7 linked regions of the Homo sapiens genome follow. The protein of the gene in region 1 purifies or fractionates together with the protein of each later gene. This does not show direct contact. Each region holds a gene or a part of one and is shown in the gene's direction. Other genes may lie near its edges.

The links.
Region 2: the proteins of FOXA3 (region 1) and RPA3 purify together in Homo sapiens (affinity purification with mass spectrometry; one large-scale study listed by BioGRID and IntAct). This does not show direct contact.
Region 3: the proteins of FOXA3 (region 1) and P4HA1 purify together in Homo sapiens (affinity purification with mass spectrometry; one large-scale study listed by BioGRID and IntAct). This does not show direct contact.
Region 4: the proteins of FOXA3 (region 1) and HOXD13 purify together in Homo sapiens (affinity purification with mass spectrometry; one large-scale study listed by BioGRID and IntAct). This does not show direct contact.
Region 5: the proteins of FOXA3 (region 1) and AKAP8 purify together in Homo sapiens (affinity purification with mass spectrometry; one large-scale study listed by BioGRID and IntAct). This does not show direct contact.
Region 6: the proteins of FOXA3 (region 1) and SMPD4 purify together in Homo sapiens (affinity purification with mass spectrometry; one large-scale study listed by BioGRID and IntAct). This does not show direct contact.
Region 7: the proteins of FOXA3 (region 1) and KHDRBS2 purify together in Homo sapiens (affinity purification with mass spectrometry; 2 studies listed by BioGRID and IntAct, with this or other methods). This does not show direct contact.

Annotation. Positions count from the first base shown.
Region 1 is NC_000019.10:45,870,812-45,874,297, forward strand, and holds the end of FOXA3 (hepatocyte nuclear factor 3-gamma), read left to right. Parts: intron 1-1,263; coding exon 1,264-2,247; 3' UTR 2,248-2,986; downstream 2,987-3,486. UniProt on the Homo sapiens protein: Transcription factor that is thought to act as a 'pioneer' factor opening the compacted chromatin for other proteins through interactions with nucleosomal core histones and thereby replacing linker histones at target enhancer and/or promoter sites.
Region 2 is NC_000007.14:7,636,018-7,638,607, reverse strand, and holds the end of RPA3 (replication protein A 14 kDa subunit), read left to right. Parts: intron 1-635; coding exon 636-744; intron 745-1,525; coding exon 1,526-1,608; 3' UTR 1,609-2,090; downstream 2,091-2,590. UniProt on the Homo sapiens protein: As part of the heterotrimeric replication protein A complex (RPA/RP-A), binds and stabilizes single-stranded DNA intermediates that form during DNA replication or upon DNA stress.
Region 3 is NC_000010.11:73,006,717-73,009,866, reverse strand, and holds the end of P4HA1 (prolyl 4-hydroxylase subunit alpha-1 isoform 2 precursor), read left to right. Parts: coding exon 1-60; intron 61-1,574; coding exon 1,575-1,645; 3' UTR 1,646-2,650; downstream 2,651-3,150. UniProt on the Homo sapiens protein: Catalyzes the post-translational formation of 4-hydroxyproline in -Xaa-Pro-Gly- sequences in collagens and other proteins.
Region 4 is NC_000002.12:176,091,447-176,095,520, forward strand, and holds the start of HOXD13 (homeobox protein Hox-D13), read left to right. Parts: upstream 1-1,274; 5' UTR 1,275-1,444; coding exon 1,445-2,225; intron 2,226-3,033; coding exon 3,034-3,284; 3' UTR 3,285-4,074. UniProt on the Homo sapiens protein: Sequence-specific transcription factor that binds gene promoters and activates their transcription. Part of a developmental regulatory system that provides cells with specific positional identities on the anterior-posterior axis.
Region 5 is NC_000019.10:15,366,288-15,369,787, reverse strand, and holds part of AKAP8 (A-kinase anchor protein 8), read left to right. Parts: intron 1-1,465; coding exon 1,466-1,553; intron 1,554-3,500. UniProt on the Homo sapiens protein: Anchoring protein that mediates the subcellular compartmentation of cAMP-dependent protein kinase (PKA type II).
Region 6 is NC_000002.12:130,175,103-130,178,602, reverse strand, and holds part of SMPD4 (sphingomyelin phosphodiesterase 4), read left to right. Parts: intron 1-1,965; coding exon of another isoform or gene 1,966-2,010; coding exon 2,011-2,049; intron 2,050-3,500. UniProt on the Homo sapiens protein: Catalyzes the hydrolysis of membrane sphingomyelin to form phosphorylcholine and ceramide. It has a relevant role in the homeostasis of membrane sphingolipids, thereby influencing membrane integrity, and endoplasmic reticulum organization and function.
Region 7 is NC_000006.12:61,891,226-61,894,725, reverse strand, and holds part of KHDRBS2 (KH domain-containing, RNA-binding, signal transduction-associated protein 2), read left to right. Parts: coding exon 1-91; intron 92-3,500. UniProt on the Homo sapiens protein: RNA-binding protein that plays a role in the regulation of alternative splicing and influences mRNA splice site selection and exon inclusion. Binds both poly(A) and poly(U) homopolymers. Phosphorylation by PTK6 inhibits its RNA-binding ability.

The DNA of each region.
Region 1 (3,486 bases):
ACCCTCCTTGGCTCCCAAAGTTCTGGGATTACTTTGGGAGGCTGAGGCAGGAGGATTACTCGAGGCCAGGAGTTTGAAAACAGCCTGGGCAACATGGTGAATCCCCGTCTCTACTAAAAATACAAAAAAATTAGCTGGGTGTGCGGTGCATGCCTATAATCCCAGCTACTTGGGAGGCTGAGGCAGGAGGATCACTTGAGCCCCAGAGTTTGAGGCTACAGTGAGCTGCGATTGCACCACTGCACTTCAGCCTGAGTGACAGAGTGAGACCCTGTAGAAAAAAAAAATTATTTAGGAGTCCAAACAGTTTCTGTTGATGTGGGTTATGTCTATCTACGTTTACAGTATTTACAATTAAAACTGAGAAATATTACAAACATGTATTCATTTAAAAATAGCAATCATTTGTTAGTGTAAAAGATTTTTATTAAAAAAACCAAATTTCAAAAAATTTAGTCAAAAGAGCGACACTGTTTTTTTCCATTTTTGCAAATCAAGTCTGGCCCAGTGGAAGACAGCTGGATTCTCCTGGTTGCTTCTTCATTCTCTCTGTTGGAATATCAACACCCCCTGGAAAACTCCACTGTACACTTCATGAGAAAGAGAGTGAAAAGGGCTAATAATAACTTAGGATTGCGGGTGTGGTGGCTCATGCCTGTAATCTCAGCACTTTGGGAGGCCGAGGCGGGCAGATCACGAGGTCAGGAGTTCAAGACCAGCCCGGCCAACATGGAGAAACCCTGTCTCTACTAAAAATACAAAAAAAAAAAAAAAAAAGCTGGCGTGGTGGCACACACCTGTAATCCCAGCTGCTCTGGAGGCTGATGCAGGAGAATTGGTTGAGCCCAGGAGGCGGAGGTTGCATTGAGGTGAGATCACGCCACTGCACTCCAGCCTGGGCGACAGAGCAAGACTCTGCCTCGAAAAAAAAAATAGCATTATTTTGAAAATAGTTTTGACTTCGTGGACATCCTCAAAGGGTTTCAGAGACTGCCCTGGGAGTCCCGAACCCTGGAGAATCACTTAAAGGATGATGTTGAGTGTATGGGAGCATGGTGGGTGGGAAAGCAGGGGGCAGAAAGGGCGTGTCCAGGGAGTGAGGAGAGACCTTGAGAGACTGCTTTCTACAGATAGAGGTAATGATGGAAGGGATTTGTAGAGAAGGCAAGATGGACAGACAGACGGACACTCAGTGGGTCCTGGGATCCTTTGCTGACCAGCAGAGTGGAGCCCCACTGACCCCTCCTTTCATCTTTCCCCTAGGTCTACTCGCCGGTGACCCCAGTGCCCACCATGGCCCCCCTCAACTCCTACATGACCCTGAATCCTCTAAGCTCTCCCTATCCCCCTGGGGGGCTCCCTGCCTCCCCACTGCCCTCAGGACCCCTGGCACCCCCAGCACCTGCAGCCCCCCTGGGGCCCACTTTCCCAGGCCTGGGTGTCAGCGGTGGCAGCAGCAGCTCCGGGTACGGGGCCCCGGGTCCTGGGCTGGTGCACGGGAAGGAGATGCCGAAGGGGTATCGGCGGCCCCTGGCACACGCCAAGCCACCGTATTCCTATATCTCACTCATCACCATGGCCATCCAGCAGGCGCCGGGCAAGATGCTGACCTTGAGTGAAATCTACCAGTGGATCATGGACCTCTTCCCTTACTACCGGGAGAATCAGCAGCGCTGGCAGAACTCCATTCGCCACTCGCTGTCTTTCAACGACTGCTTCGTCAAGGTGGCGCGTTCCCCAGACAAGCCTGGCAAGGGCTCCTACTGGGCCCTACACCCCAGCTCAGGGAACATGTTTGAGAATGGCTGCTACCTGCGCCGCCAGAAACGCTTCAAGCTGGAGGAGAAGGTGAAAAAAGGGGGCAGCGGGGCTGCCACCACCACCAGGAACGGGACAGGGTCTGCTGCCTCGACCACCACCCCCGCGGCCACAGTCACCTCCCCGCCCCAGCCCCCGCCTCCAGCCCCTGAGCCTGAGGCCCAGGGCGGGGAAGATGTGGGGGCTCTGGACTGTGGCTCACCCGCTTCCTCCACACCCTATTTCACTGGCCTGGAGCTCCCAGGGGAGCTGAAGCTGGACGCGCCCTACAACTTCAACCACCCTTTCTCCATCAACAACCTAATGTCAGAACAGACACCAGCACCTCCCAAACTGGACGTGGGGTTTGGGGGCTACGGGGCTGAAGGTGGGGAGCCTGGAGTCTACTACCAGGGCCTCTATTCCCGCTCTTTGCTTAATGCATCCTAGCAGGGGTTGGGAACATGGTGGTGGGTATGGCTGGAGCTCACACCACGAAGCTCTTGGGGCCTGATCCTTCTGGTGACACTTCACTTGTCCCATTGGTTAACATCTGGGTGGGTCTATTACTTACTGTGATGACTGCTGTCTCAGTGGGCATGGTGTTGATCCACGGGGTACTGTGATAACCACCATGGATACATTTTGGTGGCCCACTGGGTACTGTGAGGACTGCTACATTGATGGATGTTATTGGCTAATCCACTGCATGGTTTGATGGCCACCATCTCGGTTGGCCCTTTGGGTGTGATGGTGATAGCATTTCAGTGACATCTTCTTTGGCCCCCCCCATTAGGTGCTGTGCCCACTTCTTTTTTGGTGTACTTGGCACAGTAGGTGCCAAGTTGGCCACCATTCTGTGTAACACCTTTTTTGGCCCATTGGGTGCTTTGATGGACATCATACTGGGTAGGTGACAACGTCAGTGGGCCACCATGTGCCATGATGGCTGCTGCAGCCCCGTGTTGGCCATGTCGTCACCATTCTCTCTGGCATGGGTTGGGTAGGGGATGGAGGTGAGAATACTCCTTGGTTTTCTCTGAAGCCCACCCTTTCCCCCAACTCTGGTCCAGGAGAAACCAGAAAAGGCTGGTTAGGGTGTGGGGAATTTCTACTGAAGTCTGATTCTTTCCCGGGAAGCGGGGTACTGGCTGTGTTTAATCATTAAAGGTACCGTGTCCGCCTCTTACTGAATGTCTCTTTTCCTTGGCCAGTGGGCCCTGTGGGGCTTGAACACCTGAATTTCTGCTCCTCTGTCCCTTCTGCTTCCTGCCCCTAAGAGCTGGCTGCCTCTGGGGGAGGAGTTGGGGGAGGCATCGACCTGACCTTTGGCTCTTTGCTGTCCCTGACCCCAAGGACAGTTTGCTCACAGATAGCAGCCCCCGCAGCAGTGGGGCCAGAGCAGCAGGGGGAGGTGGCTCTGCAGTGACCAAGGCCATCTCCCCACCCCCACTTCTCAGACATACACACAGACCTCTACCTCTGAGGCTCTGCAAGCCTAATGGCCGAATAATCTTTGGCTAAGCTGGGGAGGAGGAAAAAGGACAGATGAGGTGTCAATTCAATGACTGGAGATCGTGCACATGTTGGAGTTTATCTGCGTGTGTGTGTGTGTGTGTGTGTGTGTGTGTGTGTCCTCTGTGTGTCATAGGATAGCACTATGCCTATTGGGGTCCTCATGGTCTACCG
Region 2 (2,590 bases), on another chromosome or scaffold:
AGGCATGCTTAACCATGCCTGGCTAATTTTTGTTTTGTTTTGTTTTGTTTTGTTTTGTTTTGTTTTTTGTAAAGATGGCATCTCCCTATGTTCCTCAGGCTGGTCTTGAACTCTCGGTCTCAAGCAATCCTCCTGCCTCGACCAGCCCCTCAAGAGTTTTCGATTTTATTTTATTTTCTATTTTTGTTCATATATTTCCAGTTTTTACTTATTTATGTTTGCATTTTATGTTTAACATACTTAAAACTTTTTTTGGTATTTTGTGAAGACAAATCCATATGCTGTTTGGTTAATGTATACAGAACACATTGTGAAATACAGATTATAGAAGATTCCTCTCATAGGATATTACTGCTTATAGAAATGCTGGACGTTTTCAATAGTGATTTTGTCTTTAACTTGAATTGTAGCTTTGGACTTGAAGCTACTGCTAAAGGTAGCAGGAATTTTAACATGCTGACAGTTAAGTACTCAAACATTTGTTAACAAGTTACATTTTAACTTTTACACTGGTAATTCTTAAAATTACTTTGTTACTTGAAGTGATAGATTAGTAACCTGTATAACAGTTTTCCAAAATAATTGTCAACTGAAAATGTGATATCACCAAATCGATGTCTTGTTCTGTGTCTTAGCTTGATGAAGAAATCTCTGGAATTGTGGAAGTGGTTGGAAGAGTAACCGCCAAGGCCACCATCTTGTGTACATCTTATGTCCAGTTTAAAGAAGATAGCCATCCTTTTGGTAAATAAAGCATTCTAGTATTGACTGGTTTTATGTAATTACATAACATACAGTTTTATATAACTGTATGTAATTACATAACATACAGTTTTATATAACTGTATGTAATTACATAACATACAGTTTTATATAACTGTATGTAATTACATAACATACAGTTTTATATAACTGTATGTAATTACATAACATACAGTTTTATATAACTATGTTTTAACATACATTTTGTATTACATACAAAATTGTATGTATTACATACAATTACATAACATAAACATACAGGAAAACAGTTTTATTTTTAGTTTGATATATATTGGTCTAGAGTTTTAGTACTGCCACATTTTCAATTTCTATAGAATTTTGTGATCGTAAAGGCAAATGGGGGTACATTTTGTTTTGGCCTGCTTTTAAGTAGTGCTTATATATGTAAGAAACTCAGTAAAGATTAATTAATGTTTGTTGAAAGATAATTTTTTTAAATATAACAAAAATAGTATTAGTTTTTTTGTTGTAATATCTGAATTGAAGGAATTGAATAATGCATAACACCCAAAACACTACCAGGCAGAAACTGCCTGTATAATGAACATCAAAATGGATGGTACTCCCATGTCTTTTTTTTGGTGCCACAGTTAAATACAAGAATCCATAATCCATATCTCCATTTTTAGAAACTCACTTCCAAAAGGGTGAGAAAAAGGAAATAGGTAAAAATATCTTAGATAATAATTGATGTTACAACTTTCCATTGTAGATTAAATGTTTGCTTAAATGTTTCTTTCAGATCTTGGACTTTACAATGAAGCTGTGAAAATTATCCATGACTTCCCTCAGTTTTATCCTTTAGGGATTGTGCAACATGATTGATCTTGATGGATTTTCATACGATTGTAAATGAGCTATATTAAAGTCTATTAAAGGAAGCCCTTCTTGTTTGAGGGAGAGATTTCTGTGCTTTCTCATATTTAATTTGCTGTTTTTAAGATATTCCAACCTAGAGTTTTTGATGGAACTGATATATTGACAGTTCTCACCGAAGTCCTTTTATAAAGAATTGCTACTCCAATATATGGTCAGATTAGATGCAAGAATAAAGCAGTTGTCCGAGTCTAAGTTTCTATTTTATTAATAAAAACTAAAATGGTACGTACTATCGGTCATTTCATTTTCATTCTTTTAATCATGTATTCAAGCACAAACTTGAAATTTCATAGCCATAAGGTCAAGATTTAGACCTACCAAATAAAACCTTGGGCCAGCTGTGTTAAGGATTTGCTCACCTTTTCCCAAACTATACCTTGATAATTATTTCCTTGATACCCTACTTACAAAATGAAGTAGATGACATTAAAAAGGCAAACAGAGACTGGCCACGCTGGCTTACTCCTGTAATCCCAGCACCTTGTGAGGCCGAGGCGGGTGGATCACCTAAGGTCAGGAGTTCGAGACCAGCCTCACCAATATGATGAAACCCTGTCTCTACTAAAAATACAAAAATTAGCCGGGCGTGGTGACATGCGCCTGTAATATCAGCTACTCAGGAGGCTGAGACAGGAGAATCACTTGAACCTGGGAGGCGGAGGTTGCGGTGAGCCAAGATTGCACCATTGCACTCCAGCCTAGGCAACAAGAGTGAAGCTCTGTCTCAAAAAAAGGCAAACAGAATCTTACATCTTCTGTAATCTGTGAAGTATCTCTTTTTCTGGCTTGGTTTGGTTTTGTTTTTGTAGAGACAGGATCTCACTCTATTGCCCAGGCTGGAATACGGTTGTGCAATCATAGCTCACTGCAGCCTTGAACCTCTGGGCTCAGTCTCCCAAGTAGCTCAGACTACAGGTGGGCACTACCA
Region 3 (3,150 bases), on another chromosome or scaffold:
GAGAAGGAGATTATAGTACACGGCATGCAGCCTGTCCAGTGCTAGTTGGCAACAAATGGGGTAAATATTTCATATATTCTGCGAAGATAATGTAATTTTTGTTTCTTATTTTGGAACTATTATCTGTGTCTTAAAAACAAAAGCCCCCATGTTTGCTTAATATGATTTTAACATTGTACAGGATTCAGCCAAACAAGTGCCTAATCATAATACAAATTTGAAATCAGAATTTTGATGACAGATTTTATTTTTAACTATTTTTACTTATTCCAAGAAACAATGACTGACTCAAAATTGAATAAGACAATATCTTCCCCTCAAAGGGTTAATAATCTGATTGAGACATACTAATGGATTATAATGTAGTACATATTAATACAAAAATGTAAACAGAAGATGGTGACTGCCTAAGTTTGGGGAGTCTTCTTCAAAGCTTTTTCTTTAAATTTGGTCCTGAAGATAGAACAGCAGTTTTCCAAACATGTTAGATACCAGGTTCTAATGTGAGGCTCGAGTAGCACCTAATGTGCAAAATTTAAAGAGGCACTCACTCTCAGTCAGGGACATGCAAGTGCAGGACCACATTTTTAAAAAGTAAAAAGAAACAGGTAAAATTAGTTTTAATATCTATTAATTAGCCCCATGTATCCATTTCAATCTGTGTTACTAGCCACATGTTGAGTGGTTACATACAGGACATTACAAGGTTAAGGAGTGAGGCCTGATCAGGATTTTAAAATCTCCCCTTATGATTATAGTGTTTAAGAACCACTGGACTAGAATGAGGAGAGGCTAGTTGGTGAGAGAGAGTTTAGAAAGCTGTTTTCTGTTGTCTAAGTGGGAGATGATAATGGCCTGGATTAAAGCATCAGTGAAAGGGTTGGAGAGCAAATAGATTTGAGAGAGATGTAAGGAAAATTGTCAGGGTTTGATGAATAAAGTGTAGATACAAGGGTTGAAGAAGGAAAAAGAGTTAAGAATTAAGGTTCCTGCTTTAGATATTTTGACTGGGTTCTATGGTACCAGAGACAAAAAAAAAATAGAAAATTAACTGCTTTTGGGATACATTTTTACATGGTATACATTTTTTAAAGGTATTTTGGAAACTTGATGAGCATACAATAGCAATGGTTGATAAGAGAGTTGTTCCTTTAGAGTGCAAAGTTTGTGTTCATTATTGTCTTTGTATTTTGGAGGCTGTACTTTGAAAACAATACATAAAGCAATATTCTACTCTTACCTGTACCTGTATCTTAGGTCCATTTGTGTCTCATTTCAAGCCTCACATTGAACATTGGAAACTGTAAGAAATGCACATAGACTGGCAAATATACATGTGTATACATACATGTATGTACATACACGCACACAAGTGTGTACACATATGTATATAGGTATATAAAATCTGTGTTTTCAGCATTTAGCCAAGTTTTTAAGTAGCATCTGCCTTTATCCGGTTTTGGTGTTGAACTTTTATCCCATGATGAAACTTTGTTATAGACCTAGCTTTTAGAAACTAATTAAATACTGATTAGATTAAGGGGGAAAATTAATATATTACTTTTCTCTCACAGTATCCAATAAATGGCTCCATGAACGTGGACAAGAATTTCGAAGACCTTGTACGTTGTCAGAATTGGAATGACAAACAGGCTTCCCTTTTTCTCCTATTGTTGTACTCTTATGTGTCTGATATACACATTTCCTAGTCTTAACTTTCAGGAGTTTACAATTGACTAACACTCCATGATTGATTCAGTCATGAACCTCATCCCATGTTTCATCTGTGGACAATTGCTTACTTTGTGGGTTCTTTTAAAAGTAACACGAAATCATCATATTGCATAAAACCTTAAAGTTCTGTTGGTATCACAGAAGACAAGGCAGAGTTTAAAGTGAGGAATTTTATATTTAAAGAACTTTTTGGTTGGATAAAAACATAATTTGAGCATCCAGTTTTAGTATTTCACTACATCTCAGTTGGTGGGTGTTAAGCTAGAATGGGCTGTGTGATAGGAAACAAATGCCTTACAGATGTGCCTAGGTGTTCTGTTTACCTAGTGTCTTACTCTGTTTTCTGGATCTGAAGACTAGTAATAAACTAGGACACTAACTGGGTTCCATGTGATTGCCCTTTCATATGATCTTCTAAGTTGATTTTTTTCCTCCCAAGTCTTTTTTAAAGAAAGTATACTGTATTTTACCAACCCCCTCTCTTTTCTTTTAGCTCCTCTGTGGTGAATTAAACGTACTTGAGTTAAAATATTTCGATTTTTTTTTTTTTTTTAATGGAAAGTCCTGCATAACAACACTGGGCCTTCTTAACTAAAATGCTCACCACTTAGCCTGTTTTTTTATCCCTTTTTTAAAATGACAGATGATTTTGTTCAGGAATTTTGCTGTTTTTCTTAGTGCTAATACCTTGCCTCTTATTCCTGCTACAGCAGGGTGGTAATATTGGCATTCTGATTAAATACTGTGCCTTAGGAGACTGGAAGTTTAAAAATGTACAAGTCCTTTCAGTGATGAGGGAATTGATTTTTTTTAAAAGTCTTTTTCTTAGAAAGCCAAAATGTTTGTTTTTTTAAGATTCTGAAATGTGTTGTGACAACAATGACCTATTTATGATCTTAAATCTTTTTTAAAAAAATGTTTGTTTTCTGTGTGGTGTTTTTCGTATTTAAATCCGAATGTATGATGTGGCAGTAACAGGTTAACTTATGTAATTTCTTTAGTACATAGGGCTTAGGTTTATACTCTTGGTTTCCACTCACACTAATGTCACATGGTTAAGAAAAACTTAGGCTCTCTGAAGTTTCAGATATTTCATGAATCAAGATGTGCTTCCTTCAAAGAGAGCTCTAAAATACTTTACTGTGGTTATGAAGTTATTATGGGCCAGGCATGGTGGCTCACGCCTTCAATCCCAGCACTTTGGGAGGCCGAGGCAGGCGGATCACCTGAGGCTAGGAGTTCGAGACCAGCCTGGCCAACATGGTGAAACCCCATCCCTACTAAAATTACCAAAATTAGCCGGGTGTGGTGGTGCATGCCTGTAGTCCCAGCTACTTGGGAGGCTGAGGCAGGAAAATCGCTTGAACCTGGGAGGCAGAGGTTGCAGTGAGCTGAGATTGCACCACTGCACTCTAG
Region 4 (4,074 bases), on another chromosome or scaffold:
TTAGTTGCTGAGATTGAGGGATGGTGGGCTGGAGCTCTGAGGCTGAGGAGCAACAGAAAGGGATGATGAGGGACAGGGCTGTAATCCCTAACACCCTGGCAGCTTGGTTCCAGAGCTGGACCTAGCCCCACCAGCACTGCCCTGAGCCCACCTAACCCCTTGAAGTCAGACCGTTTCTCTGGGCTGCTCCTATCACAAAATCCGAATTTGCTTGGAACAAGCGCCCTCTTAATTTGCCCCTCTCAGTTCTCTGCAGTTGACAGCTTGGAAAAGGAAGCGAAACAAAGGTCCCTGGGAAAGTGAAGTTTTCAATTAATTTGGTGTGAGAAACGGGCGGGAGTGGGTGGTGACTGCAAAATGCGAGGCCGGTCGGCTGCTGGAGAGACACAGAAGTTTCACGGTGGGAGGCTGAGTGGCTTTCTCCCCCGGCGCCGTTCTCAGGGTCTTTCTGCGGGTCGAAGAAGGACCCGCGGGAGCTGAGAGGCCCAGGTCGGAAGCACTCCCGGCTGGCCCAAGAGTAGAGGCGAAGAGCGTTGAGTAGGCATCCATGGACTTTTCTTTCTGGGACAGATTGTCAGGCTCACTGCGCCGATGCCTGTCTTTCATCTGTTTAAGTCTCTGCCGCCAGCCCCAAGGGCGCTTCATGGGCATTTTCCGAACGGACAGCGTGTGTGTATAGGAAGGGTCTGCTCCAATGCCTCTTACCTGTGTGAAATGCCTTTGCCGGGTACCAGTGCACAAGGTAGGGCAAATTAGCTCACTCGGATTTGGGGTCTAGAAGTCGACTAACTGAGGGATTCAGCAACAGGATAAAAAAATGGGCCTGTTTTCACATCATTCTGATCATCTCTGTCCTTCGTCTTCATTTTGCTGTGCAACTCGGGGAGCCGAGGAGAGGTGGCAAAAACAGCGGTTGCCGAGACAAGGCGCAGGCCTTGGCGCCCGCCTCAGTCGCAGACAGGGCCTGGGATGGGCCGTCGCGCAATCAACTCGTGGGGGTGGCTGCAGCGCGTACGCCTGGGTCGGGGGGGAGGGCGGGAATGGGAGGTGGACCCTGCAAGGGGCAGGAGAGGGGTGGGGGCCGGAGTGGGTGGGTCCAGCCAGGCCTGGGCCGGGAGCCAGGCTCCCCCGCGTTCCTACCCCCACGTGGCCGCGCGCAGCCAATGGCACGCCCCCGGCGGGGGCCCTCGGGGCGGGAGGCGGCCCCCCGACCGGCCCAGGCCCCCTCCCAACCTGAACTTCGTTTTTATAAACGTCCCGCGATGAGCTAACCTGTTGGAGGGCAGGCGGGCCGGAGGCGGGAGGCTCACAGAGGGAGAGAGGGCTAGAGGAAGAGGGCGGGAGCGAGCGAACCAGAGAGAAAGGAGAGGAGGGAGGAGGCGCGCCGCGCCATGGTGTCCTGCGCGGGGCCAGGGCCAGGGCCGGGGCCGGGCCAGGCCGGGCCATGAGCCGCGCCGGGAGCTGGGACATGGACGGGCTGCGGGCAGACGGCGGGGGCGCCGGTGGCGCCCCGGCCTCTTCCTCCTCCTCATCGGTGGCGGCGGCGGCGGCGTCAGGCCAGTGCCGCGGCTTTCTCTCCGCGCCTGTGTTCGCCGGGACGCATTCGGGGCGGGCGGCGGCGGCGGCAGCGGCGGCTGCGGCGGCGGCGGCGGCAGCCTCCGGCTTTGCGTACCCCGGGACCTCTGAGCGCACGGGCTCTTCCTCGTCGTCGTCCTCTTCTGCCGTTGTAGCGGCGCGCCCGGAGGCTCCCCCAGCCAAAGAGTGCCCAGCACCCACGCCTGCAGCGGCCGCTGCAGCGCCCCCGAGCGCTCCAGCGCTGGGCTACGGCTACCACTTCGGCAACGGCTACTACAGCTGCCGTATGTCGCACGGCGTGGGCTTACAGCAGAATGCGCTCAAGTCATCGCCGCACGCCTCGCTGGGAGGCTTTCCCGTGGAGAAGTACATGGACGTGTCAGGCCTGGCGAGCAGCAGCGTACCGGCCAACGAGGTGCCAGCGCGAGCCAAGGAGGTATCCTTCTACCAGGGCTATACGAGCCCTTACCAGCACGTGCCCGGCTATATCGACATGGTGTCCACTTTCGGCTCCGGGGAGCCTCGGCACGAGGCCTACATCTCCATGGAGGGGTACCAGTCCTGGACGCTGGCTAACGGGTGGAACAGCCAGGTGTACTGCACCAAGGACCAGCCACAGGGGTCCCACTTTTGGAAATCTTCCTTTCCAGGTAGGGGCGATGGAGAAAAGGGACCGACACGAGGGAGGGGGAGAGAGAAGGAGAAAAGAAAGGACTAAGAGTATGCGCCCCTACTTGGGAGTGGGAGTTGTGCCTGTGCTCCACACGTGACCAGGGTTAACCCAGTGGAAATTTGTCCAGTTCGTGTGAAATCTGTAAATTCCTCCTCTGATTTCAACTGCCTCCGTCACTGCCCTTTCTTTCCTGTGTGCAGCGCAGACACGTTTTTCTCCTAAAGTTGAGAGTCTCTGCGTGCCCTTTCCTTGGGCCTCTCCCTTTTCTCCTAAAGAGAACTTTTTCCTAAGAAACCTGACAGAGTTGGGTCCCCCCATTTTCAAAGACATCACTGCCCCAAGATGACTACTAAAGCTTGTTAGATCAAGCTCACGAACTCCTAACATAGGAACGCGGGAAATCAAAATTTGAGCAAAAGACCTGAGTTGGTATGTGTCTATGTATGTAAGTTTGTTTTTATACAACCGACATTTGCAGAAACTGTCCTCATGAACGTGCCCAATAACCACACCATAAAATTGCAAGCTTGTTAAGATGCCGGTTTGAGAAACTATGATAATCAATCAAATTAACCATTGTTGTTAAGTGCAAATAATCCTTCTTTAATAACAGGTAAGTGTTATGTCTATGTACATAATAAAGACCAAACAGCATGGCATTTTTTAAAAATTTCCTGCACCCCTGCAAACGCACACACACACACACACACACACACACACACAATCCTCAGCTAGGTGCTCCGAATATCCCAGCCTAATTTTTCTTGTGCTTTTGTTTGTATCAGGGGATGTGGCTCTAAATCAGCCGGACATGTGCGTCTACCGAAGAGGGAGGAAGAAGAGAGTGCCTTACACCAAACTGCAGCTTAAAGAACTGGAGAACGAGTATGCCATTAACAAATTCATTAACAAGGACAAGCGGCGGCGTATCTCGGCTGCTACGAACCTATCTGAGAGACAAGTGACCATTTGGTTTCAGAACCGAAGAGTGAAGGACAAGAAAATTGTCTCCAAGCTCAAAGATACTGTCTCCTGATGTGGTCCAGGTTGGCCACAGACAGCTTAGAAGCCATTCGGTTGTCTCCAAAAGGCCTTTGGAAAGACTTGAATATGTATTTAATTCCCCCCACCCCCTGCCAATGGTGGCAAATTTTGTGAATTGTTTTTCTCTCTTCCCCTTATCTGGCTCTAAAACCTTCTGCTGCCCAACCTGACTTTGTAGTTCTGATTTTTACTTGTTTATTATTGGTTTTGTTCTTGCCTAGGGTTTTTAAAATATCTGTTTTTAATGTTTTGTTTCTCCCTCCAGGCCAGTATAAAGGGACTTGAAGTATTTTTTAATAATCCGCCCCCCAATGAACTTCAGAAGTGCCATTCTGATTTAAGGGTTTTTTTAAAAAATTACTTTATTTGTTCATTCCCAGCACTGATTATCTTCATAATCCATTAGGACAGAATGGTTTTCAGTCGTTCATATCCTGTAATTAGGTAATTGAATCATTAGCTCTCAGCAGTTGCCCTGAGGCAAGTGGAAAGGCAGGCAGTGCTCTGGGGTCACCGAGAAAGTCTAAAAACAGGAGGCTGAAGGTACTGTGATGGCTTTAAAAATGGCCACCTTATTAAATAGGGATTGTATCAATATTGAAATGAAGACAATCTTTCCAACTTTGGGTGTTTCACTTGCTGTTTTAATTGTTTGTTTTTAACACTTTGTAGGTTTGTGTTTTCATAATCTTTAATTTGAAACTCATGTGTCCTCATGGATCGTGGATGCCTTCATTTCTTGAGCTCTCAATGCAGACATTTAAATGGCTGCAATCAGTAGA
Region 5 (3,500 bases), about 31 Mb from region 1:
AGTGTTTTCTCTGGGGCTTCCTTTTGTCCAGTTCCTTCAGTCGCCTGCCCTGGGCTGTGCTGTGGGCCTCTGTGGTGGGGATACTGGCAGCTGCACTGCACATTGCTTCGTGCCTGCGAGTGTGTGACAGCAGACACCTGCGGGGTCGGGAGCACCCAGGCCCACTGGGTCTTTGAGAGGCGGGCGCCCTTCAGCAGGTCTCTTCATGTCCAATGCAGGAGACCAGAGGGTCTGCAGCAACAGCAGAGCAGGCTTAAATCCCTCATGGCAGAGCGGCCTGAGGTGCCGCGGCCTGGAGCTCACCCTGAAGCCACTCGTTTCTTTACCTGTCCTGTGGGTCTTTCCGTAGCTGGTTACCCCAAGGATCATAGGCTGGCTCCTCAGTGGCCCTGCTCCCATCCATTCTGAAGGCCCTTGGCTTAGATGTTCCTCCTGTTCAGGCTTTGCCAGCCCTCTGCGGTCCTCCCCCCCGCGACCCGCAGCAGTCCTGTCCATAGCACGGGGCGCCCCGAGCGCTTAGCGGCACAATGCTAAAGCAAAGGTGACATGTCTGTTGCGCGCAGGTCCTGCTACCTACCCGGGATGACTTTGCTATTAAACAGCAGTCATAGTTTCAGGCAGTGACCTCTTGCCAAAAATCCCACACGCCCTTTTGAGAGGCTTCTGAGCAGCGCACGCCGGTCGCCATCTTCGTGGGACAGTCTCGGGACTGGCATCAGGGGTAGGGGTTACAGTTCAGATGCTTCTCCAACCTTTTTTCAGCGTCCGTCCCTGGCCTCATGCTGGGATGATGGCCGCGTGGCTCTCCGAGGAGCTCCTCTGCTGGCCCCGGGGGACGGACGGGAGGACCAATTGGTCTCTTCCCAAATTTTTTTCTAGGATTGCTTCCCACGCAGCCCTGGGAAAGCCCTAGATTGACGGTTTTTGTGAGTGGAAGATAGAGGTCGGGCCAGCAAGGACTGTCAGACCTGCTGAGGCCCTAGTTCAGACGGGGCCGCCAGGACGCTCGTCACAGTCCACCTAGAGGTGGGATAGAGGGCGGCGGAGCAGCTGCTTCACTTCCTGAGGCCTTCAGCTGCCGCCTCTTCATCCGGGGAGAATTGGCTTCTCCTGTGATATTGGGAGAAGACCCCATCGCAGGGCATGAGATTGGACAAGCAGAATGGGGAGGACAGAGGGAGCAGGGGGCTGTGGTGCACATGGGGTGGGCAGGCTGTGTCCCTAGCCCATCCTGGCCGCCTCAGGCCATGTGGGGAGTTTGGTGACTACTCCGGGCTCTCACTCCAGGCCCGTGTCCACCAGGAGTCTCTGACAGTGCCTTGGGGCATCCTGGACCCTGCCGCGTGGTGCAGGCAGTGGCAGGGCACAGGGTGCGGTGGCCAAGCTGCAGCCCCCCGACCAGGCCCTGGAGCTCAGCTCCTTTGCAGGCCACTCAGAGCGTCTCGAAGGGACTTGTCTGTTACAGGAGAGAAGGAGGACGAGGACGAGGATGTGAAGAAGAGAAGGGAAAAGCAAAGGAGAAGAGACAGGACGCGGGACCGTGCAGCCGACAGGTGAGGCGCGGGCACACGACCCCACAGGAGGAGGTGGACTCGTGCGGTGGAGGCGCTGCCGAGCTCACCTGTCCTCGCTCCACAATGCTGGGGGCCTGGTGGCCTGACTCCTCTGGCCAAACCAGTGGGAGGCAAAACAGTAAACAATTGGGAGTGCAGAAAAGACCATCACTCGTGCTCCCAGCACACGAGCTACCTGTCTTCTAGGATGGCTGGGACGTTGCTTTGGTGGTTAGGTTTCTGTTCTTGCTTTAGAGGATTGGTGTTTGACTCCTGTGTCTCTATTCCTCTGGAATCCCAGCCTTGCTGGTGGGTCTGTGTGGTCCATAACTGCTCAGCAGCGGGCTCTGTTACTCTCCTGCAGGCCTGAGGGGCATCCCTGCCCCCTAGCCTGGTGTCTGGCATCTCAGACACTGTCCTGTGTTCACCTTATCCAAATCCAGACCACCCCTGGAGTTTGACACAGCTAGGAGACAGGTAGAGAGATGATCCTACCATCAAGATTTTGTCCCACAATAGAAAAGGATTGCAAAAATGTTGAGCCCAAAGGATGTCATTGTGAGCACACCATGTGCCTGCCTCTCCCTGCCAGGAGTTAAGTGGCTTCTGACTAGAAACTGAAATCACCAGTGATCATGTGATGCTGGGGAATCCTTGACCTTAAGGTTCACATGGGACAGTGATTTTCTTTTTGTTTGTTTGTTTCTGAGATGGAGTCTTGCTCTGTCGCCCAGGCTGGAGTGCAATAGCATAATCTCGGCTCACTATAACCTCTGCCTCCTAGGTTCAAGCGGTTCTCCTGCCTCAGCCTCCCGAGTAGCTGGGATTACAGGCGCCTGACACCACGCCTGGCTAATTTTTGTATTTTTAGTAGAGGTCGGGATTCACCGTGTTGGCAAGGCTGGTCTTAAACTCCTGATCTTGTGATCTGCCCGCCTTGGCCTCCCAAAGTGCTGGTATTACAAGCGTGAGCCACTGCGCCCAGTCTGGGCAGTGATTGTCGTGTTCAAAGAAATGCTTAGTAAAAGGGGCCAGATGCCGTGGCTCACACATGTAATTCCAGCACTTTGGAAGGCTGAGCTGGCGGATCGCTTGAGGCCGGGAGTTCAAGACCAGCCTGGTCAATATGGTGAAACCCATCTCTACTAAAATTACAAAAATTAGCCAGGCATGGTGGCAGGTGCCTGTAATCTCAGCTACTCGGGAGGCTGAGGCAGGAGAATCACTTAAACTGGGGAGGTGGACTTTGTAGTGAGCCAAGGTTGCACCACTGCACTCCAGCCTGGGCGACAGAGCAAGACTCTGTCTCAAAAAGAAAAAGAAACGGGCTGGGGGCAGTGGCTCACGCCTGTAATCCCACCACTTTGGGAGGCCAAGGCAGGCGGATCACCTGAGGTTGGGAGTTCGAGACCAGCCTGACCAACATGGAGAAACCCAGTCTCTACTAAAAATACAAAATTCGTCCGGCATGGTGGCGCATGCCTGTATTCCCCGCTGCTCGGGAGGCTGAGGCAGGAGAATTGCTTGAACCCAGGAGGTGGAGGTTGCAGTGAGCCAAGATCACACCACTGCATTCCAGCCTGGGCAACAAGAGCGAAACTCTATCTCAAATAAAAACTCCATCTCAGTGAGCCGAGATTGTGCTACTGCACTCCAGCGTGGGCGACGGAGCAAGACTCCATCTCAGGAACAAAAAAAAAAAAAGAAAATCACTGTTCCATGTGAACCTTAAATCAAGGATTCAAAAAAAAAAGAGAGAAATGCTTAGCAAAACGAAGCCAGGAACCAAACGCAGAACTGTTTCTTCTTAAGTGGTACAGGAACATTGAAACCCTTGTTATTTTAAACAGATAAATGGATAGAGTAGATGACTTTTCATGTCACATGGAAACTGAGATGACATTTTCTTTTTAATTATTTTTAAACTTAAATAATCTAATAAAGAGA
Region 6 (3,500 bases), on another chromosome or scaffold:
GACTGGTCTCAAACTCCTGGCCTCAAGTGATCTGCCCACCGCGGCCTCCCAAAGTGCTGGGATTACAGGTGTGAGCCATGGTGCCCGGCCTTTGATCCTAGTTTTCTCATGGCTTATTCAAAGGCTCCCTTGGCAGAGCTTGCTCTTCCCCTCCGTTCATTGCATAGTGCACAGGTAATATGGAGGGGATTTGCCCCTGTCTCAGTTTTGTGAGGTGGTGTTTGTATTGGAATCTTGGTTCTGCCACTTACTAGCTGGGTGGGGGTAAGTGAATTATCCCATTTCTGCCTCTCCTTCATCATCTGTACTGACCTGCAGTCATAGTACATCTGTACCCATCGGGTTGTTGTGAGGTTGGTTTTTCTATTCTTGTATGACAAACTTAGCAGCTTAAACCGGCATCCATTTATTATCTCATAGTTATGTATGCAGAAGTCCAGGCATTACAAGATTAAAATCAAGGTGTTGGTAGCTTTGCTCTTATCTGGAGACTCTAGGGAAGAAGCTGCTTCCAGGTTTATTTAGGTTGCTGGCAGAATCCAGTTCCTTGGAGTTGTAGAACTAAGGTCTTTGTTTCCTTGCTGGCTGTCAGCTGGGGACTACTCTGTAACTTAAGGTCCACTAACTTAGGACTCTAATTGGATGTGCAAAATGCCGTCATAGCAGTACCTAGATGAGTATTTGATTGAACAAACAGGGGTCGGGAATCTTGGGCTGCTATCTTTAGAATTCTGCCTACCACTGAGGATTAAATGAGGAGATATATAGAGAGCATTTAGAGCGAGTCCTGGTATATAACAAATGCTGTACAAGCATTACCGAGGATTCAGTACTACAAACTTGGCTCTGAAGCTGGCCACTATGGGCTGCAGGAGAACAGTATTTCTTTTTTTCTTTTTTTTTTTTTTGAGATGGAGTCTTGCTCAGCCTTCTAGGCTGGAGTGCAGTGGTGTGACTCAGCTCACTGCAACCACCTCTCCTGGGTTCAAGTGATTCTCGGGTCTCAGCCTCCTGAGTAGCTGGGATTATAGGCACCCACCATCATGCCCGGCTAATTTTTGTATTTTGGTAGAGACGGGTTTTCACCATGTTAGCCAGGCTGGTCTTGAACTCCTGACCTCAGGTGATCCTCCTGCCTCAGCCTCCCAAAGTACTAGGATTACAGGTGGGAGCCACCATGCCCGGCTGAGAACAGCATTTCTATAAAAGATGGGAATTGCTGGCCAGGCGTGTTGGCTCACACCTGTAATCCCAGCACTTTGGGAGGCTGAGGCGGATAGTTCGCTTGAGTCTGGGAGTTCAAGAGCAGTCTAAGCAACATGATGAAACCCCCATCTTTACAAAAAGTACAAAAATTAGCTGGGCTTGTTGATGTTTGCCTGTAGTTCCCGCTAGTTGGGAGGCTGACGCAGGAGGATCACTTGAGCTCAGGAGTTTGAGGTTGCAATGAGCTATGATCGCACCACTGTACTGCAGCCTGAGTGAGCAAGCAAGAGCCTGTCTCTAATCAATAAGTAAGACATGAGAATTGGCAATGTAATGTGTGTTGCGAATTGGTAATGTAATGTGTGATATTCTCCTGGGCATTGTGAAACTATGTAATATTTTGTTAGGGCCAGGTGCAGTGGCTCACACCTGTAACCCCAACACTTAGGAGGCCAAGGCAGGAGGATCAGTGGAGGCCAGGATCCTGGGCATCACAGCCTGACAAACTAGCCTGGGCAACATAGCGAGACCCTGTCTCAAAAAAGAAGAAAATTAGCCAGGCATAGTGGCACGTGCCTGTACTCAGGAGACTGACGTGGGAGGATTGCTTGAACCCAGGAGTTTGAGGTTGCAGTGAGCTATGATCGTGCTGCTGCATGCCAGCCTGGGCAACAGAACAAGACCCTGTCTCTAAAAAAATAATATAAAAAGATTCTGCTGTGTTACAGATGTTGAGATTTTGTCTTTGTTTTTCCACAGTGGTTTGCTAAGAAGGCCATTTTCAACTCTCCACTGGAGGCTGCTATGGCGTTCCCTCACCTGCAGCAGCCCAGCTTTCTACTGGTAAATATCAACTGCTTGCATGAGTGTCAGTGTGGCCATAGTTCTGTAGATGTGGGACTTGAGTGTTCTTCCCATTGACTTGAAGAACTCTGTAGTGGTTGTTTTTTAGGGGCATGTGATGGAAACAATGGCAGACTCCTTAACTTGACTGTGCCTCCTTATTACTACAGGACCTTGGGGTTACTCAACTTCTGGGCTCTGGGTTTTCTCACACAAGTTCATTCAAATTCTATTTTCTCTACTTCCCAAGGGTGTGAGGAGGAGGAAGAGCAAGTGAGAAGGATGTATATCAGAATGTTCATGACTTGTAAATTCTTAAATAGATATGAAGTATTCTAATAATCAGTCATAACTGTCATCAGTGAAAAATGGAGACACTGTTGTGCGGGGGCCTGCTAGGTTGCACTTTAAGTATTAAACATGATGCTGAGAACTGGGTGCAGTGGCTCATGCCTGGAGTTCCAGCTACTGAGGAGACTGAGGCAGGAGGATTACTTGAGCCCAAGAGTTTGAGACCAGCCTGGGCAACATAGTAAAGACTCAAAAAGGAAAAAAAAATGATACTGAGAAGTGAGAAGTTAGATATGAGGCAAGTATTGGTGATGAAAGTTCCTAATTTTAGTTCTTAGGAGGTGTTTTTGTAAACATTTATGTGGAAGGACATTCTTCCTCAGTGCACCCCACTAGAGTCAACAGGTCTGGCCCATGGCCAGATAGCTCAGGTCTCCATCTCTGTCTCAATCACTGTGAAATCCACCCTTGTTTGGAGGTAGACAAGGCCTTAGATATCCTTTGGCAAAGCTCTCTAGGTTGAAATTCTAGCCGTTTCTCCTGATCTTAATCCATTCGCACAGATGCCCTTTTTCTCCTTGTAGTCAGGGTGCTTTCCTCACATCCCACGACTAGGTAGATTTCATTAGTCCTTGTCCTGAGTCTTTTCTGGCCTCTCCATTGCCTTCATGATTAGTGTCTACTTGGCTGAAGCCATCTATAATTTTTGTCTGCCCTGTGTTTTAAGATCATTGGTTTAGTGGTTCAGTGTCTACCGAATAAAGGACAGCTCATTTAAGAGAGCTTCTGCCATAGCCGTGATGTTGTTGGGCGTTCTTACTGATGATCACAATGGTGTAATCACGGTGGTCCATCAGGCTGGAAATTTCCAGTTGATGCGTACAAACTCAGTTATACTCTGTGGTTTGTGAGGGGTGCCCTTACACAGTCAAGATCCTCTTCTGGCTGTGGGGCTGACTCTGGGACCAACCCCTACTTATGGATTGGTGGAAGTCAATCCTGTTCTGATCATGTGCAGCACTCTGAGGGGGTACTGGGAAACAAGGCTGATAGTTCCTGGTCCAGAGAGCATAGAACTACGGCCTCTCCTAGTAGTACTCTTTGGGCCACTGACACACATGAGGGGCTGGGGAACCAGGCCAGAGGTTATGGGTCTGACT
Region 7 (3,500 bases), on another chromosome or scaffold:
AGGTGTCCCTACCCCTCGAGCCCGGGGGGCACCAACAGTGCCAGGATACAGGGCACCTCCTCCTCCAGCCCATGAAGCTTATGAAGAATATGTAAGTACTCTTAAGAAATAAGTTGTAAGGATGAGTTAAATTGATTAGTTAACAAGCTACGTCTCAAACTGTTCATATACCGTGAATATAGCAGGTAATGTTTGTTGCAGAAACGAATGTCATTTACAACAGAATTTAAGCAGTGCATTTAAATGAGAGCATTTTGAGAAAAGGTTTCATTTTACAGGTGTCATCACTGTTAGTGCTAGTTAAAGAGCTTGTATTTTAAGAACCAAACTTATCCTTAGGAAGTTTGATCAGATTTCAAATGAGAAATAATTATAAACAAAAGGTGAATTGCCATGTATTCAGAGATTTCTGGAACTTGACAAAGATTAGCATAAAACTCAGAAATATTTAACAAATATAATATGATTATATTATAAACTTTGGGAGTATTGTAAGACCGTGTGGCTGGTCTTTCATTTATATATCCTGACTCTTTCTTTCACCATATTAAAGATGTGGATTGGCATAAAAAATTCAAAAAAATATACAATGAATAGACAAAATGCAGTGTTTCCAAGCATCCCCCTCCCTTCCTATCTACTGTATCTTTTGGTCATCTTATGTATCTAAACATCTTTTAACCTTTAGTTCTGATTGTCAGTATTCCACTAATTACATTGTGGTCCTTGTGTCCATTTCTCCGACTAGATTGTGAAATATGTAAAAAGGGAAAATTTACTAATAGTGTAACAATAGGAAGTCTTCTGTAAATGTTTTTTTTTTTATTATTATACTTTAAGTTTTAGGGTACATGTGCACAACGTGCAGGTTTGTTACATATGTTTACATATGCCATGTTGGTGTGCTGCACCCATTAACTCATCATTTACATTAGGTATATCTCCTAATGCTATCCCTCCCCGCTCCCCTCACCCCACAACAGGCCCCAGTGTGTGATGTTCCCCTTCCTGTGTCCATGTGTTCCCATTGTTCAATTCCCACCTATGAGTGAGAACATGCGGTGTTTGGTTTTTTGTCTTTGCGATAGTTTGCTGAGAATGATGGTTTCCAGCTTCATCCATGTCCCTACAAAGGACATGAACTCATCATTTTTTATGGCTGCATAGTATTCCATGGTGTATATGTGCCACGTTTTCTTAATCCAGTCTATCATTGTTGGACATTTGGGTTGGTTCCAAGTCTTTGCTATTGTGAATAGTGTCGCAATAAACATACGTGTGCATGTGTCTTTATAGCAGCATACTTTATAACCCTTTGGGTATATACCCAGTAATGGGATGGCTGGGTCAAATGGTATTTCTAGTTCTAGATCCCTGAGGAATGGCCACACCAACTTCCACAATGGTTGAACTAGTTTACAGTCGCACCAACAGTGTAAAAGTGTTCCTACTTCTCCACATCCTCTCCAGCACCTGTTGTTTCCTGACTTTTTAATGATTGCCATTCTAACTGGTGTGAGATGGTATCTCATTGTGGTTTTGATTTGCGTTTCCTTGATGGCCAATGATGATGAGCATTTTTTCATGTGTCTTTTGGCTGCATAAATGTCTTCTTTTGAGAAGTGTCTGTTCATATCCTTTGCCCACTTGTTGATGGGGTTGTTTTTTTCTTGTAAATTTGTTGGAGTTCATTGTAGATTCTGGATATTAGCCCTTAGTCAGATGAGTAGGTTGTGAAAATTTTCTCCCATTCTGTCAGTTGCCTGTTCACTCTGATGGTAGTTTCTTTTGCTGTGCAGAAGCTCTTTAGTTTAATTAGGTCCCATTTGTCAATTTTGGCTTTTGTTGCCATTGCTTTTGGTGTTTTAGACATGAAGTCCTTGCCCATGCCTATGTCCTGAATGGTAATGCCTAGGTTTTCTTCTAGGGTTTTTATGGTATTAGGTCTAACATTTAAGTCTTTAATCCATCTCGAATTAATTTTTGTATAAGGTGTAAGGAAGGGATCCAGTTTCAGCTTTCTACATATGGCTAGCGAGTTTTCCCAGCACCATTTATTAAATAGGGAATCCTTTCCCCATTGCTTGTTTTTCTCAGGTTTGTCAAAGATCAGATAGTTGTAGATATGTGGCATTATTTCTTAGGACTCTGTTCTGTTCCATTGGTCTGTATCTCTGTTTTGGTACCAGTACCATGCTGTTTTGGTTACTGTAGCCTTGTAGTATAGTTTGAAGTCAGGTAGCATGATGCATCCAGCTTTGTTCTTTTGGCTTAGGATTGACTTGGCAATGCAGGCTCTTTTTTGGTTCCATATGAACTTTAAAGTAGTTTTTTCCAATTCTGTGAATAAAGTCATTGGTAGCTTGATGGGGATGGCATTGAATCTATAAATTACCTTGGACAGTATGGCCATTTTCATGATATTGAGTCTTCCTACCCATGAGCATGGAATGTTCTTCCATTTGTTTGTATCCTCTTTTATTTCATTGAGCAGTGGTTTGTAGTTCTCCTTGAAGAGGTCCTTCACATCCCTTGTAAGTTGGATTCCTAGGTATTTTATTCTCTTTGAAGCAATTGTGAATGGGAGTTCACTCATGATTTGGCTCTCTGTTTGTCTGTTATTGGTGTATACGAATGCTTGTGATTTTTGCACATTGATTTTGTATCTTGAGACTTTGCTGAAGTTGCTTATTAGCTTAAGGAGATTTTGGACTGAGACAATGGGGTTTTCTAGATATACAATCATGTCATCTGCAAACAGGGACAATTTGACTTCCTTTTTTCATGATTGAATACCCTTTATTTCCTTCTCCTTCCTGACTGCCCTGGCCAGAACTTCCAACACTATGTTGAATAGGAGTGGTGAGAGAGGGCATCCCTGTCTTGTGCCAGTTTTCAAAGGGAATACTTCCAGTTTTTGCCCATTCAGTATGATATTGGCTGTGGTTTTGTCATAGACAGGTCTTATTATTTTGAGATATATCCCATCAATACCTAATTTATTGAGAGTTTTTAGCGTAAAGTGTTGTTGAATTTTGTCACAGGCCTTTTCTGCAACTATTGAGATAATCATGTGGTTTTTGTCGTTGGTTCTGTTTATATGCTGGGTTATGTTTATTGATTTGCTTATGTTGAACCAGTCTTGCATCCCAAAAACAGTCCAGGACCAGACAGATTCACAGCCGAATTTTACCAGAGGTACAAGGAGGAGCTGGTACCATTCCTTCTGAAACTATTCCAGTCAGTAGAAAAAGAGGGAATCCTTCCTAACTCATTTTATGAGGCCAGCATCATCCTGATACCAAAGCCTGGCAGAGACACAACAAAAAAAGAGAATTTTAGACCAATATCCCTGATGAACATCGATGCAAAAATCCTCAGTAAAATACTGGCAAATGGAATCCAGCAGCACATCAAAAAGCTTATCCACCATGGTCTTCTGTAAATATTAAATTTAACTGATGCAAGCCAGATCATTGTACTATGAAAATGATTTATTT